Linked DNA regions of Homo sapiens. The protein of the gene in region 2 interacts with the protein of the main gene of each other region in a biochemical or structural test. Each region holds a gene or a part of one and is shown on either strand. Other genes may lie near its edges.

The links. Proteins that work in one complex are often made in the same cells at the same time.
Region 1: the proteins of LRP1 (region 2) and CLU form a complex in vitro, tested with the Homo sapiens proteins (one study listed by BioGRID).

What each region holds. Positions count from the first base shown.
Region 1 is NC_000008.11:27,611,669-27,619,380, forward strand, and holds the start of CLU (clusterin isoform 1 preproprotein), read right to left. Parts: upstream 3,033-7,712; 5' UTR 2,987-3,032; intron 84-2,986; exon of another isoform or gene 1-83.
Region 2 is NC_000012.12:57,173,391-57,180,485, reverse strand, and holds part of LRP1 (prolow-density lipoprotein receptor-related protein 1 preproprotein), read right to left. Parts: intron 6,707-7,095; coding exon 6,506-6,706; intron 5,027-6,505; coding exon 4,781-5,026; intron 4,578-4,780; coding exon 4,380-4,577; intron 3,446-4,379; coding exon 3,241-3,445; intron 3,060-3,240; coding exon 2,895-3,059; intron 2,128-2,894; coding exon 1,883-2,127; intron 1,597-1,882; coding exon 1,465-1,596; intron 1,158-1,464; coding exon 930-1,157; intron 705-929; coding exon 530-704; intron 440-529; coding exon 345-439; intron 157-344; coding exon 7-156; intron 1-6. UniProt on the Homo sapiens protein: Endocytic receptor involved in endocytosis and in phagocytosis of apoptotic cells. Required for early embryonic development. Involved in cellular lipid homeostasis.

The DNA.
Region 1 (7,712 bases), on a different chromosome or scaffold from region 2:
CGCTCAGCCCAGCAGGCCCATCTGGACACTCAGTAGCACATTAACAAGGAGTGCCTCTCATGAGAAGTAATCAGGCGCAAAGAGCCAGGGAGCAGCGTGGGAGAAGAGATGGGGTCAGCGCCTTCCCCAGAGATGGGGTAGGGGGCGGAGACCGGGCTCACCAGGAAGGCTGTGGTCTCACGGGCTCTGCCCCAGCTGCCCACTGAGCCCTGAAATGCCTCCAGCAGGAACAGAGCCTTTGTCATGCCAGAGAGACAAAGCCAGCCAGAAACACCTCTCTGCCAGGGGCCCCTGAAAGCAACAACTTCTGGAAAAACCCATTCAGAACTAGGTTCTGACCAGAAGACAGGGTGCTGGGCCATGAAGAATGGGGCAGCCAAAGGCAAGATACAGGAAAGGAATTCCAGACTCAGCAGCGGGCACAGAGTCTGCTCCAGGGAGCCTGGGGTCCCTGGTGAACCATCCAGCTCAGACCTGGGAAGGAGGTCGTTCTCTCACCCAACCTCTCTACCCTAGCGGTGAGGCTGAAGCCCAGAGAGGGCATGGGACTCCCTAGAGTCCACAGCATGCTCATGGTAACCCTGGGATGAGAGCCCAGCCCTCCCGACCCCTAGTCCAGTATTCTTTCCTTGATTCCAAGTCACTTAAATATCTGAGCCTCAGTTTCTTCATCTGTAAAATGGATCTAATCCAGACCTCAGAGAGGGGAATGTGTTCTGTAAACACGAGGGTCTTATGTAATCATAGTAAATTCTGACTACTTCCAAATTAGACTGAGGTCTGAGGCTGGGCATTGGCAGTGTCTAATCAACATGTCTGGAGAGGGGCAGGAAAACCGAGACAAGCACACAGAGGCCACCTGTGGTCCCCCGGACTGTGTGGCTCTGCTTTGCTGAAATGATTGACCACTTTTTAAAGTACTTATGAATCACTGCAGGGCTGGTTATAATGTTGGTTCTGAGACTGCTTTTCCAGCCAGTCTGCAGGTGATATGGATGCTGCTGATCCAAGGAATGTTCTAGAACCGTGACTGCACAGCCGACCTCCTTTCCTTTGCTCGGACTCACCTCCCCCCTCATCTCCTCTGCCTCCTGGGAGCCTGGCTGCCAGCTGCCCTGGGTGGAAGAGCCATGCCAAGGCCAAGGCCCTCGAGTCCCCAGCACTACCACACAGCCTCATTCTCCCTAAGAAGGCTTAAACCACTTGGCCTTGCTCCTTCTACCAGAAAAGGCCGGTTCTGTGGACAAAGGGGCTGCTCAGGGGAAGAGGAGGAGGAGAAGATGGCGGGGGGTGGGGGGCAGGGGGGGCGGGGGGAGCAGGCAGACTTTGGGAGCAACTCCCCTCCAGGCACACCCTCCTGGGAACTTTGAACTGAGCAGCTTCCCAAAACGTTTCCAAGCAGGGCAGGGCTGGAGGCTTAAGAAAATCAATGACCTGGCAGGGCGCATTGATTCACACCTGTCACCCCAGCACTTTGGGAGGCCAAGACAGGCGGATTACTTGAGATCAGGAGTTCGAGACCAGCCTGGCCAAGGTGGTGAAACCATGTCTCTACTAAAAATACAAAAATTAGCCGGATGTAGCAGCATGCGCCTGTAGTCCCAGCTACTCAGAGGCTGAGGCATGAGAACTGCTTGAACCCGGATGGCGGAGGTTGCAGTGAGCCGAGATGGCGCTACTCTACTCCAGCCTGGGCAACAGAGTGAGACTTGGTCTCAGGAAAAAAAAAAAAAAAGAGAGAAAAGAAAGAAAGAAAATCAATGACTGTGAACAGGGAGCCGTGGGGAGGATGGGAAGACAGTGAAGAGGGCACACAGATGGTGAGGGTTTCAATCCCAAAGCCCCGGCTCCTATCTGCTTCTTCAAATGGAGAAAACTAAACCAAAAGGAAAATAAGAAAAATAATCACCGGTAATTCATATCACCCAGAGGCAAAGGTTAGCACTGTGGTATATTTCCTTCTGTCTTCCATGCAGTTTATACAAGATTCTTCACATTCACCATCTTCAAATATTCTTTAAGGGCATACTTTTATGGCTATGTAATACTCCACTTACTCACGGACCTAAGTTTATTTTACCATTCTCACAAGATTGGCCATTTCAGTTGTGCCCAATGCTCCACTATTATTATAACTTAACATTTTCATGGGCATCTTTTTTTATATAGTATCTGTACTTTCCTTTAAATTCCTAACCTCTCCGTTTAAAAAATAATAATAAAAATCATATTTTTTTTAACTAGGTCCAGAAATTCTGGAAGGTCAAGAGGCTTTGGCTCGAATCCCAATTCTGATACTTATTTGCTGTTTAGTGTTGGCACCAGTCCTAAACCTCTCCAGGCCTCAGATTATCATCTGTAAAATGAGACTGTGGAATCAGAGGTCTGAGGCCTGGTGGATCTTGTGTGACTTTTCTCTGATGCACCTCAGATGCATTAGGAGGCAGAAAAAGTCGGATTTCGGTGGTTGCAGCATATACTGAAATCCGCAGCCTCATACTTACAGGCAACAGTGTCCAGAGAGCTAGAGAATTTAGAAGAAAACTAGATGACTCATGCATGCAAGCCGAAAGCCACAACTGAGAGATCCGCATCTTCGCAGAGGATATGCTGCAGGAAGGAGCTCGGTGCAGGCCAGCTCTGTCACCTGCTAGCCTGGGTCTCCCGCAACGCGGCAGGTCTCCAGGTCTCAGTTTCCCCATCTTTGCGAAAGGATGATCATTATATCTGTTCTATTTACCCCCCCACCACAGAATTGTGGTTGGAGCTCGTGCTCTCAGGCGGCGGTTGCGCCGGGGCCCCTGGCTCAGCTGCCTGGTGATGGGGCTCCGGCCACCTCCCCTCCCTGGCTTCCTGGGCTCCGTCGAAAGCGCAGGGGTTGTGACTGCGAGCTGTGTCATCCCTCTCTGCCTGGCTGCCATCCCCTGCCCGCCCATCCGTCCTGGTGTGGCTCTGCTCAAGGGTAGGGAAGACGGGGACATCTCACCGGTCAGCGGCACCCTGTGCCCGCGCGCTCCTCCTGGCGACGCCGCGTTGTGGGCACTGGGAGGCGCCGTATTTATAGCGCTCTGCTCGCGCACACACCCCCTTTGGGGCTGGCTGCAAACCTGCATGACTCACGCCCAAAGAATGCCGCGGAAAGCAAGGGGAGCTTTCTGGAAGCCGGGAGGTGGGGGCCGGTGCAGCACCGGGCTGGGGGCGCCGGGGGGCGCATCATCACCACGAATAGCTGTGCTGGCTCCAGGAGAGACCCTGAGGTGCGGCCGCTCGGCGCTTCCAGTAGGGAAGAGCCTGAACTCGCGTGCCCATCTGGGAGCCCCTCTCACGCGGTTAGCCCGGCTGTCTGTCCCAGTCCAAGACACAATCTCACAGTTCCCTGGCCCTACTGACCTTAACCTTCACATTACACAAGCGCCACTTCTCTTGACCCATTTAAATAGTAAAGAGTCAGACATAATGAGGGTGGGATGGAGAGGGGCCTTGTGCTGGAGAAGAGAGCACAGGAAGTATTGAAACGCCTACTCCTGGAAACATCACACTGATGGGGGTCCCTGGACTGACCCGCCAGGCCTGGAGGAAACAGAATTGTGTTTAGGAGTGATCAGAGCAGATATGTGGAGAGCCAGAAGGCCTCTCCGGGGTCCTTGATCCACAGAGCTTAAGCAATCACTGTCCCCATCTTTTTGGAACCCAACCAAGCAGGGTGGGCTTCATGGCTGTGGGACCCTTGCAGATCCACGTTTGGTTTAATGGGCTACTGTGACGGTCTTGAAATTCTTCATAGTTTTTGAACCAGTGGACCTGAATTTTTATTTTGCCCTGAGCCTTCCCAGTTAGGAAATCAGATCTGTGTCCAGAGGGGTTTGCTGGTCTCCAACTGCTGGAGTTCCTTCTGCTGAGAGCAGGGAGAATCTCCTGTCGCAGCCACCCCTCCCCCTGGCAAGGAGGGGCAAATCTAGGAACCCTGGAGGTGCAGCTACTTCTTGGGGAAGAAAGTGAGCTGCCCATTTTGGAGCCAGGGATGTTTAAGCCCCAGGAGAGAAGTCAAGGGGCTGACAGCTGGGGCAATGGGTGGACAGGGCGGGTACAGGCAGCCCCACTGTGGGTGGCAGACTTTGAAAACCATGTGAAACAAAGGGGCTTAAAGGAGAGCTGCGTGGTCAGGGGCTGAGTTTTCCAGTTCAGGATCAGGACTATGGAGGCACAACATGGAGGCCCAGTCCCTTGCTTGCCCAACGTCCAGGGGCCACTAGGACCCCAGTCCTTTTCAGGAGGCAGCCTCGGGGAATCTTCAAGGCCCATGACTAAGTGGGAGAACCCAGACCAGGTCCATGAAAGTCTGATTACAGTCCTAGGTGTGCCCCTAGACACTGGGTGACCTCGGACTAATCACTTTGCCCTTGGGCCTCAGTTTCTTCCATCTGGACGATGAGGAATCGGGAATGGATCATCTCCACGGCTCCCTGCAACCTAACCTAGAGCCAAGCCAAGTATTAGAAGGCCATTAACCCAGAAGAAGAAAAAAATGTCCCAGAAGAGGCTACACTTTATTTTTCTTAAAAAAAAAATGTCTAATTATCAGTAACAGCTACATTTTCTGTGGACAGTGCCTGCTCCTTATCAGTGCCTGCTCCTTATCAATACCTGAGGTTAGAAGAATTGTTTTTGAGCTCGCTCCTTGTAACTTTTCTGTTCTGTAGCTCCCTCAGCATCCGGAACAGAAGGCATAAATCTAGTTATATTTTTAAAAATTAGACTTTGGAGGTCAGTCAGTGAGATCCGCCTTAGCCAGCTGAATTAGGGGAAGGGAAGAGAGGAAGAAAGGACTTGGGAGAAAATAGCATGATTCACAGATTCACAGTCATGACTGTGATCCCTTGGGAATAATTACTTGATTATTCCCACTACTAAGCAAACAAGGTTCAGAAGGTCAAACTTTGAGGAAAGAAAAGTGTAAATTTTGAAAGCGCCATAAATGCATCACCAGATGTTTCATATTCTAAGCAGATCATAGACATTGATTGGTTCAGGACTCACACACTGCTTGATTCCTACCCCATCCCCAGCATCTGCACCCGGTGGTCATCCTGCCCATGTTTGAATGCCACCAATAACAGGGAGCTCACTACCTGCCATGCAACCATTTGTCTAGTAAAGCTGTTGATAAAGTTAGGGCCTTCTTTGGTTGAGTCACAGTCTGGCTCGTGTATGGGCCAATCCGGAGCCCAGTTCTGCCCTCTGGAGCCACACAGAGAAAATCCAGCCTATCTCTCCCATAGTGCCCCTTCTGATATTTGAAGGCAACGTAGTCTGCTTTTCCCAGTGACCTCCAGGCTTGCAGCTCCTTGCCTTGCCGTGGTTTGCAGACTTTTCCCCAGCCCTTTGACATTCTGGACCTCATCTCTCTTGAAACCCTTGGCCCAGCCCTGGACTAGCCAATGCCAGTGGGGAGCCTTGGACCAGCCAATGCCGGAGGGCCTGAGCACACAAAGCAGAACAGGACCACCCCTTCCCTTGCCCTAAACACTCCAAATAAGCTTTATCAGATGCTGAGTCACTGGGCTGATTCATAGAGAATGCATCATCTTCTTGGCAGGTGCTGCTGTTTGATCCTCTGTCTCCCATTATGGACTTACACAGCTGGGTTTGGGGCATTAGCTTGATTTATTTTCTTGGAGAGTCAGAGCCATGGGGAGGGCCAGGGAGGGATGAGTAAAGACCCTTGCATTTATCTGTTTATCTATGCTTTGTGCACCATCTCTGGCTGCCTGAATGTCTCTGGGGCTGCTTCGCTACGCAGTGTCCTTATTACACATCCCCAACCAGCCTTTGTCTGGCTCAGCACCACAAGCAGGACAGCTCAGCCAGCAGTCTGATACAGCTGGAACAAACTAGGAATGGGCAAGAGCAGTATCCTGTGGCCTGTGATTAAGAATCACTCTCAGATGGGCGTGGTGACTCACACCTGTAATCCTAGCACTTTGGGAGGCTGAGGTGGGAGGATCACTTGAGTCCAGGAGTTCAAGACCAGCCAGGGCAACATAGCAAGACCCAGTTTCTACAAAAATTAAAAAATTAGCCAAGCATGGTAGTGCATGCCCGCAATCTCAGCTACTCAGGAAGCTGAGATGGAGTATCGCTTGAGCCCAGGAGGTCAAGGCTGCAGTGAGCTACGATCGCACCACTGCACTCCAGCCTGGGCAATAAAGTGAGACCCTGTCTCTCAAAAATAAAAATGAAAAAAATAAGAGAATCACTCTCCAAGGGGAGCAGGGAGGGAGGATGGTGAGAGATTGGTCAACCAGTACACAGTTAAAGTCAGATGGGAGGGATAAGTTCTGGTATTCTATCGCATAGTAGAGTTTAACTTTTTTTTTAGGTCCCAGTATCTATTGCTCCCCTCTATGTGTCCATGTGTTCTCATCATTCAGCTCCCACTTATAAGTGAAAACATGCAGAATTTTGTTTTCTGTTCCTGTGTTACTTCACTTAGAATAATAGCCTCCAGCTCCATCCATGTTCCTGCAAAAGACATGATCTCGTTCTTTTTTATGGCTGCATAGTATTCCATGGTGTATACCGTAGTATTCCATGGTGTATATATACCATATTTTCCTTATCCAGTCTGCCACTGATGGGCATTTAGGTTGATTCCATGCCTCTGCTATTGAGAATAGTGCTGCAATGAACATATGAGTGCATGTGTCGTTATGGCAGAGCAATTTATATTCCTATATATACCCAGTAATGAGATTGCTGGGTGAAATGTTAATTCTGTTTTTAGCTCTTTCAGGAATCATCACACTGCTTTCCAAAATGGTTGAACTAATTTACACTCCCACCAACAGTGTATATAAGCCTTCCCTTTTATCCACAACCTCACCAGCACCTCTTATTTTTTGAATAATGTATATTTCAACATAGGTAGAAGAGAGAACTTACAATGTTCTCACCACAAAGAAATGTTTGAGATGGATTTGGTAATTACCCTAATTTGATCCTTACACAATGTGTGCACGTATCAAAACATCACATTGTACCCCACAAATATGTACCATTCTCGTGTCAGTTTTAATTTTTTTTAACTTAGTGAAAGGCTGGGTGCAGTGGCTCACGCCTATAATCCCAACACTTCAGGAGGCCGAGGTGGGGAGATCACTAGGTCAAGAGACCATCCTGGCCAACATGGTGAAACCCTGTCTCTACTAAAAATACAAAAATTAGCTGGGCATGGTGGCACGCGCCTGCAGTCCCAGCTACTCGGGAGGCTGAGGCAGGAGAATTGCTTGAACCCGGGAGCTGGAGGTTACAGTGAGCTGAGATCGCACCACTGCACTCCAGCCTGGCAACAGAGTGAGACTCCATCCAAAAACAAACAAACAAACAAACAAAAGGATGGATTTGCTAATTACCCTAATTCGATCATTACACAAACGATCTTAGTAAAAAGATCACAAATGATTCTTAGTAAAAAAGAATCACTTTCCAAGCTGTAATTATTTAATGGGTATATACATTTATTTAATCAATTACAGGCCCATGATCAAATGGTGGCTAATAAAATCATATCCAGTGAAATCAGCCCATAGATGATACAGAGGTATTCTGAGTGATTTTCTCCGGACCTCCGTAAAGTCCAGAAACATTCACTCCATCAGTGGGTGTGTCTCATCTCCCCATTCAGGATCTTCTTGGGTAAAGGTCTGAGGCTA
Region 2 (7,095 bases):
CCTCACCCATGATGGCCAGGGCGGTGGCCTTGCCCAGCTGGCTCCGCATGGCATCGATGACCTCCAGCCCACTCCCATCCAGGTTGCAGCGGTTGATGGTATGGTTCCCGGAGCTGATCCAGTAGAGTTTGCTTTCAGGGAAGTCAATAGCCAGGCCTGGAAAAGGGGGAGTCACTGCCGGGGAGTCTGGCCCAGGGCTGGGGATCCAGGGAAGGGAGCAGATGGTGAGAACAGGCACTAAGCTAGGGCTCTGGGGAGGCTGAGGGGCAACTGAAGGACCCTGCAAGCACCTGCTGGTCAAGGAATTAGGGAGGGGCTGTGGGGGTGGGCAGGGAAGCTCGTACCCACGGGGCCCTTCTGGCCACTGAAGAGCAGGGTGCGATTGCTGCCATCCATGTTGGCCATGCTGATGTTGTCACCATCGGTCCAGTAGAGCTTCCTGGGGGGAGGGTGCCAAGAGGGAAAGGTCAGGGTCCTCTTCTTCCCAGCCCCACACCCCATGCTCCCCGGCCCTGGGCCCTAGACTGACCCACGCAGAGGGTGGACGACAAGGCCATGGGGCTGCTCCAGGCCCTGCACCACTGCGTTCTTGAAGGAGCCATCCAGCCGGGCCACATTGATCTGCTTCTTATTGGTGTCATAGCTTGTCCAGAACAGGTTTCGGGAGACCCAGTCCACAGCCAGCCCGTGGGCATTTGGCAAGTCTGGGGGCACAAGTAGGGAGTCAGTTGTTGGGTGTCTGCAGGGCAGTGGGTCAGGAGGGGAGCCAGTGTGCCTTCTGGAGAAAAGGGATCAGGAAACCAGGCTGGAGCACTGAGGGGGAACAGGACTGGGAGAAGGACCACTCGGACCAAGTAGACCAGGGTTGGGAGCAAGGGGCGGGTGGAGGTGCCCATGTCCACTGGTGGGCATCCAGGGCCAGGAAGAACCTGCAGAGACGACTGTCTCCACGCCTGTGCCGTTGATGAAGGCCCGCTTGATGGCCTGTGTCCGCACGTCAGACCAGTACACACGCTGCTCGCGGGCATCGTAGTCTAGCACTGTGACGTTGTCGATGTCGGGCACCGTGAAGGAGATGATGTAGTTGTAGTAGGGAGCATCCAGGTCCACACCTCGGATCTCCATCTGACGTGCGTACAGCAGGAACTTCTTAAACTCTGTGGGGCATGGGCTGGTCACTGAAGGCAGTCCCTGCCTCTGTGCTTCCCACCAATCCGGTTTCAGGCCCTGCCTTCTTCTGGATCCGTCTGTTTGCTACTGGCCCTTGGCTCCGTGGACATACCCCGCTGGGTGCAGCCCCCCTGGCAGACCTGCAGCCCCTTCTCACAGTGGCTGTCTCTGGAGCCTCTCCTATCGGGACCCTCCCGACTGGGACTCTGCCTTAGCTGACAACCGGGATCCTGGGGCCTGCGGCCTTCCCTCCAGCCTCAGTTGCTCACTGGCTCTGGAGGGAGGGGCTCCTACCATAGCAGGTGGTGTTGTCCTTGTGGAGCTTCATGAGGTGGGGGCAGGCGCAGGACACGGTCCGGTTGTAGTTGATGAGACACAGGTGGGAGCAGGGGCCCTGGCCCCCATTGGCCTCACAGGGATTGGGAGCTGGGGGCAGGGTGGAGAAGAGAAGAAGCCAGAGCATCCTGTGACTTGCTGCTCCCTACATGGACCACCCCTTCCTCGCCCACTCTCCTCCCCCTGTTCCAGCAGCCGCTACTACTAGACCCTTCTCTGCTGCTAGACAGTGCCTCTGTCAACAGCCGGCCTACCCCTGCCATCCCAGCACAGACTTGCTCCTGTTCTCACTGCCCTCTCCTCTCCTAAGAGCTTCTACAGCTTCTAAAGAGGCTGCTGGCTCCCTTCCGGCTGCTCGAGGCCCCGAGCCCCTTACCCATGGGCTGGCGGGAGGGGTGGTACACCTGCAGGTCAAAGGGCTGGGTGTTGGTCCTCTGTACCACGGTGACATTGTGGCCGGTCCACTTGTTGGCCTTAGCCAGTGTGTTTGTTCGCCAGTCAGTCCAGTAGACCTCCCCCCCGTACAGCGTCACTGCAAACGGGTGCGACAGGAACTCGTGTCCCCGAAGCACCTCCATGTGGCCAGAGCCGTCGTAACGGGCTGAGTAAATGGCATCTGACCTAAGAGCATGATGGAGCAGAATGAGGATGCCAGCTGGGATCTCAGCCCTCAGAGCTCTGCCCAGGTGCCCACCCTCTGGGCCCTGGCCACAGCCCTCCCAGCGAAGAGCATGGGACCATTCCCTCCCCTAAGCCTTGCTGGCCAGAGCAGACAGACAGAAGGACCAAGGTGTGAGAACCCAACAGGTCCAGGTTTCACCTCTCAGGCCCCGATTCCCAAGCCCCAAGGGAATCTTTCGGTCACTTCTCCCCAGGGCTGCTGTCAGCACTCAGGGCTTTGATGAAAGTCAGAAAAAGGCACCCTCAGCGTGAACCCCGGGGGGCGGAGCCTGCAGTGAGCCGAGATCGCGCCACTGCACTCCAGCCTGGGCGACGGAGCGAGACTCTGTCTCAAAAAAAAAAAAAAAAAAAGAAAAGAAAAAGGCACCCTCCCTGGGCAGACCAATTAGAAAGAAGTTTCCCCTCCCTCTGGGCAGACACAGCCCCAGCAGAGGGAACAGAGTGGAGAGGACAGGTGAGTGGAGAGGATGGTACAGTGTGAATAACCACAGCTGATGGCCCTGCTTCCGCCTCCTCTACCTGCCCCCTCCCCTCGGCCCTGGCCTCCCCACGCCCCTCCGTCCTCCTCCTCCTGTGCCCAGTCCTTTGCCACCGTTCCTAGTTCTAGATCCCTTGGTCCTTCTCATCACCCTCATCACCACAGGTTCCTCCCCACCCCGTCCTGGTGCCACAGACTTGGGCCTTCTCAGGGCACAGAGGGTGCTGACCTGGCGTCAATCCAAAGGATGCGCTTCTCCAGGTAGTCCACGGTGAGCCCGTTGGGCCAGCCCCCAGAGCCGGTCTCCCGGTGCACGGTGCGGCGCCCAGCCCCACTCATGGAGGCTGCCTCAATGCGGGGCAGGCTGGCATCCCAGTCTGTCCAAAACAGGATCCTGGGGAGTGGGGAGGGGTCAGGAGGGCTAAAGTCAGGGCCCTCAGGGAGCGACTGTGGTGGGATCGTAGGTAGAGGGTGGGAGGAGGCAGATGGCACTGAGGAGTAAGGTGTCCCTGGCCAGGCTGAATGGGACTTCAGGGGGGCCATGGGGCCAGGAGAAGGCTGGGCAAGGTCCTCACCCATCCCGGGGATCCAGTGCGATTGCCCTTGGGTGCTCAATGTCACCGGCCAGCAGGGTGGTCCGGAGGGTCCCATCCAGCTTGGCCACCTCGATCTGATCCAGGTTACTCTCCACCCAGTAGATGTTGCCTGCAATCCAGTCTACAGCCAGGCCCTCGGGTGTGGCCAGGCCATACTGAATCACCACCTCGAAACTAGTCAGGGCTGGAGAAGAGAGGGCAGTGAAAGGTTAGCGTCTCCTGGGGAGCTGTGCATGAATGTGTGAAATCCTGGGAGCCCTCGATGACCCACCCTCAACCCTGGCACTTCTGCCAAAGTTTCTGATGTGCCCATATTCAAGAGTAGGACTCCTATTGTCTCCCCAACTTTTTTTTTTTTTTTGAGACAGGGTCTTCTGTCACCAAGGCTGGATGCAGTGGCATGATCATGGCTCACGGCAGCCTCAACTGCTTGAGCTCAAGTGACTGCCATAAAGATTTTTCCATGCTAATACATTATGTGTGTGCCTCATTGTTTTAGAGACTGTTGCACAGTGTGGATATCATCACAGTTTACTTAGCCTCCCCCCTCGTTGATGGACATTTGTAATGGTTTCAAATTCAAGTTTGTATTATTACAAACAATACAAACTTCTCTAGTAAAATGTGCCTCTTAGAAGCCTTTGCTCAGATGTCACCTTCTCAGGGGACCTTCCTTGACCACACAACTGAAAACAGCCTGTTTTGATCACTGCTGCATGCCCACTGCCCAGTGTGTACAGTGGGCACTCACTATTGTGTGTGACTGAAGGAAGTCTGGGGTGCACCACGCTGCCTGGGACAGAAAGCAGCGTTCAGGTACGCCACTCCTAAGTGGCTTTTTTCTTTCAAGCCTGCAATTCTAGATCTGGGGAGCAGAGCTCCAGGCCATTCAAAGGTAAGGCTGATCATTTTGTTAATTATCAGGCTGGCAGTTCTGCTGACGATAATTACGGGGCGTCAGGCATGGAGACCCACAGCAAAATCTAACCCAATGAACAGAAGTGTGGGGGATGGGGGAGCCAAGCCTCTGCTTTGGGGCCACTTGGATGGGACCTGTGGCCCCTAGCGCCTGAGCGCTCCGCCTGTGTGCATCCTGCCTGGCAGCAATCGGTGGTCACCTCCGTTGTCCAGCAGCTTCCCGCGGTAGATCTTGTCCTCCACCACGTCGGTCCAGTAGAGGGCGCTCTGGCTGAGGTGGAAGTCCAGGGCGATGGTGTTGCGCAGGCCGGGCACCAGGACGCTGTAGTCTCCTTTGTGAAGATCGATGCGCCGGATTTCATGGCGGTTGGAGAAAATGATGAACGGCTTGAAGGGGTCTGGGATGGGAGGGATGTGATGGGGTCAGCAAGGGGCTAGCTGCCTGTGTGCCACCCGTCCTGGCGCAGGCAGGTCTCTGCTGGTCCGGGCACTGGGGGCTAGGGTGGAAAACTCAGCCTTTGGCACCTGGCCACCAAGCCCAACCCACTGCAGCTCAGAGGCCTGCCTCGGCCTGCCCCACCACACCTCACTGTTGTCTCACCCAGGCTGCGGCAGCTCTCGCCGTCAGGTTCCAGGACCCAGCCCTCGTAGCAGGAGCACTTCACGCTGAACTTGTTCTGGTCGCACTTTTGGCTGCATTTGAGATGCTTGGCACAGTAGCTCTGGATCTGGCAGGTGTGGTTGTCGGGCCCCAGCTCCATGCCCAGAGGGCAGGAACACACAATGCCTTCGCCAGGTGCCACTGAGCAGTTGTGGCTGCAGCCACCGTTATTCAGAGAGCACTGGTCTAGGGGAGGGGCAGGCATGGAACAGACCCAGGGTCAGAAGCTGAGAGGAGGCAAGACCACGGCCCTGCTGGGCCCCAAGTCCTGGGCAGCCTGGACCAAGTCCTTGTGCCCTGCCCACGGCCCCATTCGTCTCCATTCCTGCTGAGCTTCAGGCTGAGCTTCAGCCCAGGACTTCCTGGGCTCCCTCAGGACCAGAGTTGGGACCCTTGCACCCACCAGCTGGCACCATACCTCCCCTTCCCACAGGGAGCACCCCTCAATATCTCTGTCTGGTCTCGATATGTTCCTGCCTTCTTGGGCCCAGGGCGGGGGCCCCAGCTTTTTGCCTCCCTGGGAGGGACCCTGGGAGGTCCTTAGGTCCAGTCCCCTTGTGCTGATCTCTCCTGATTTGGAGGGGTTTGGGGTGGGGTGCAGCAGGGCCTATACCACCCTTGGTCCTCTGGCACACCCTGGAAACTGCCAGCCTGACTGATAGCCTGTCGGCAGTTCTCCCAGCCAGTCCCTGTGGCCTTATCTTCCACTCCTCCCTTCCAAGGAACTGGGGGCTCTGCCTGGCTAAGAGGACCAGATAAGGCTGCTCTGCTCCTCATCCCCAAGTCACACCACATGGTCCTCCCTGACTCCTGGACTCCCCCAACCTCATCTCTTTTGGTCTTGAATGGGCACCCTCCTCCCCTTGCCTGTTTGTTTGTTTGGGATGGGGTCTTGCTCTGTCGCCCAGGCTGGAGTGCAGTGGCAGGATGTTGGCTCACTGCAACCTCCGCCTCCCAGGTTCAAGCGAGTCTCCTGCCTCTGCCTCCCAAGTAGCTGGGACTGCAGACATGTCCGGCTAATTTTTGTATTTTTAGCAGAGACAGGGTTTCACCATGTTGGCCAGGCTGATCTCAAATTCCTGAGCTCAAGTGATCTGCCCGCCTCAGCCTCCCAAAGTGCTGGAATGACAGGTGTGAGCCACCGCGCCTGCCCCCATGCCTTCTCACTCACTCTGCAAGTACTGCCTGTCCTTGGGAACCCCATGCAATCCCCACATCCTCCAGGAAGCCTGCCCTGACCATCAGCAGTCAACCCTGGTGCCTTTGTCTCCACAAGAGCACTCCGCATCTCTCTGTGGTATGCATGTGGGCAAGGGGTCTGAGTCTCCACAGCAGTTTAGGAGCTGTACTACCTTGGCCCAAGTCTGGGGGACCACTATGGAACCCCTCCATGCCTCAGTGCTCCCATCTGTCAAACGGAGAAAACAGAGCACCTGGCCCCCAGGGATGCCTTGTGGATAAACTGCTCTAATGGCGTGGCTCACTCAGCACAGCGCCATGGGGAGCGCCAGGTCCACACAGGCTGCTGGTGACCACTCTGGGTGCTGCTCGCCTGCCCGGCTGCCAGAGCTGCTCTCTCCTAGACTCAGGTCCCCCAAAGACTGTCCTTGGCCCAGACTCCTACCCAGCCACCCTCCCTACCCTTCTCCTGGGACCAGGCCTCACCGCAGAGCTCGCCCTCATCTGAGCCGTCGCCACAGTCGTCGTTGCCATCACACAGCTTGTCAGGGGGCAGGCAGACTGAGGTGTTGTTGGCACAAGGGTGCGAGGGTGGCCTGCAGGCCAGGGACTCGCAGTTCTCCTCGTCCGAGTTATCCTCACAGTCATTGTCGCCATCACACACCCACGCTTTGCTGATGCACCGAGCTGAGGGACAGGTGCACTATGAGGGCCCAGGCCCGGGGACTGGGGCTCCCCCTGCCCTTCCTTCCAGACCCTGTGGGCTTCTCTAATAGGGTCAGGATTGCAACGCTGTGGGGTCCACGAGGAACCCCGAGGCTTTTTGGGTCAAATTCACATAGGCAACAAACAAGGCAGGAATCTGCAGCAGGAGGTGCTGAAGCTCAACTCTGGTAGGGTTTTGGCTTCTCAGGTCCTCTGTGCAGGCTCTGGCCCTTCATGCCTTCCCCCACCCATGACACACAAGCTTCCTCTGGACTGCCTTTTGCCTTGCACTGTCCCCAGCACCACTCCACACAGCACAGTGCCATCCCCTTTGCCGCTACTCTGCTCTCAACACGGTCTCCTCCTGCCCA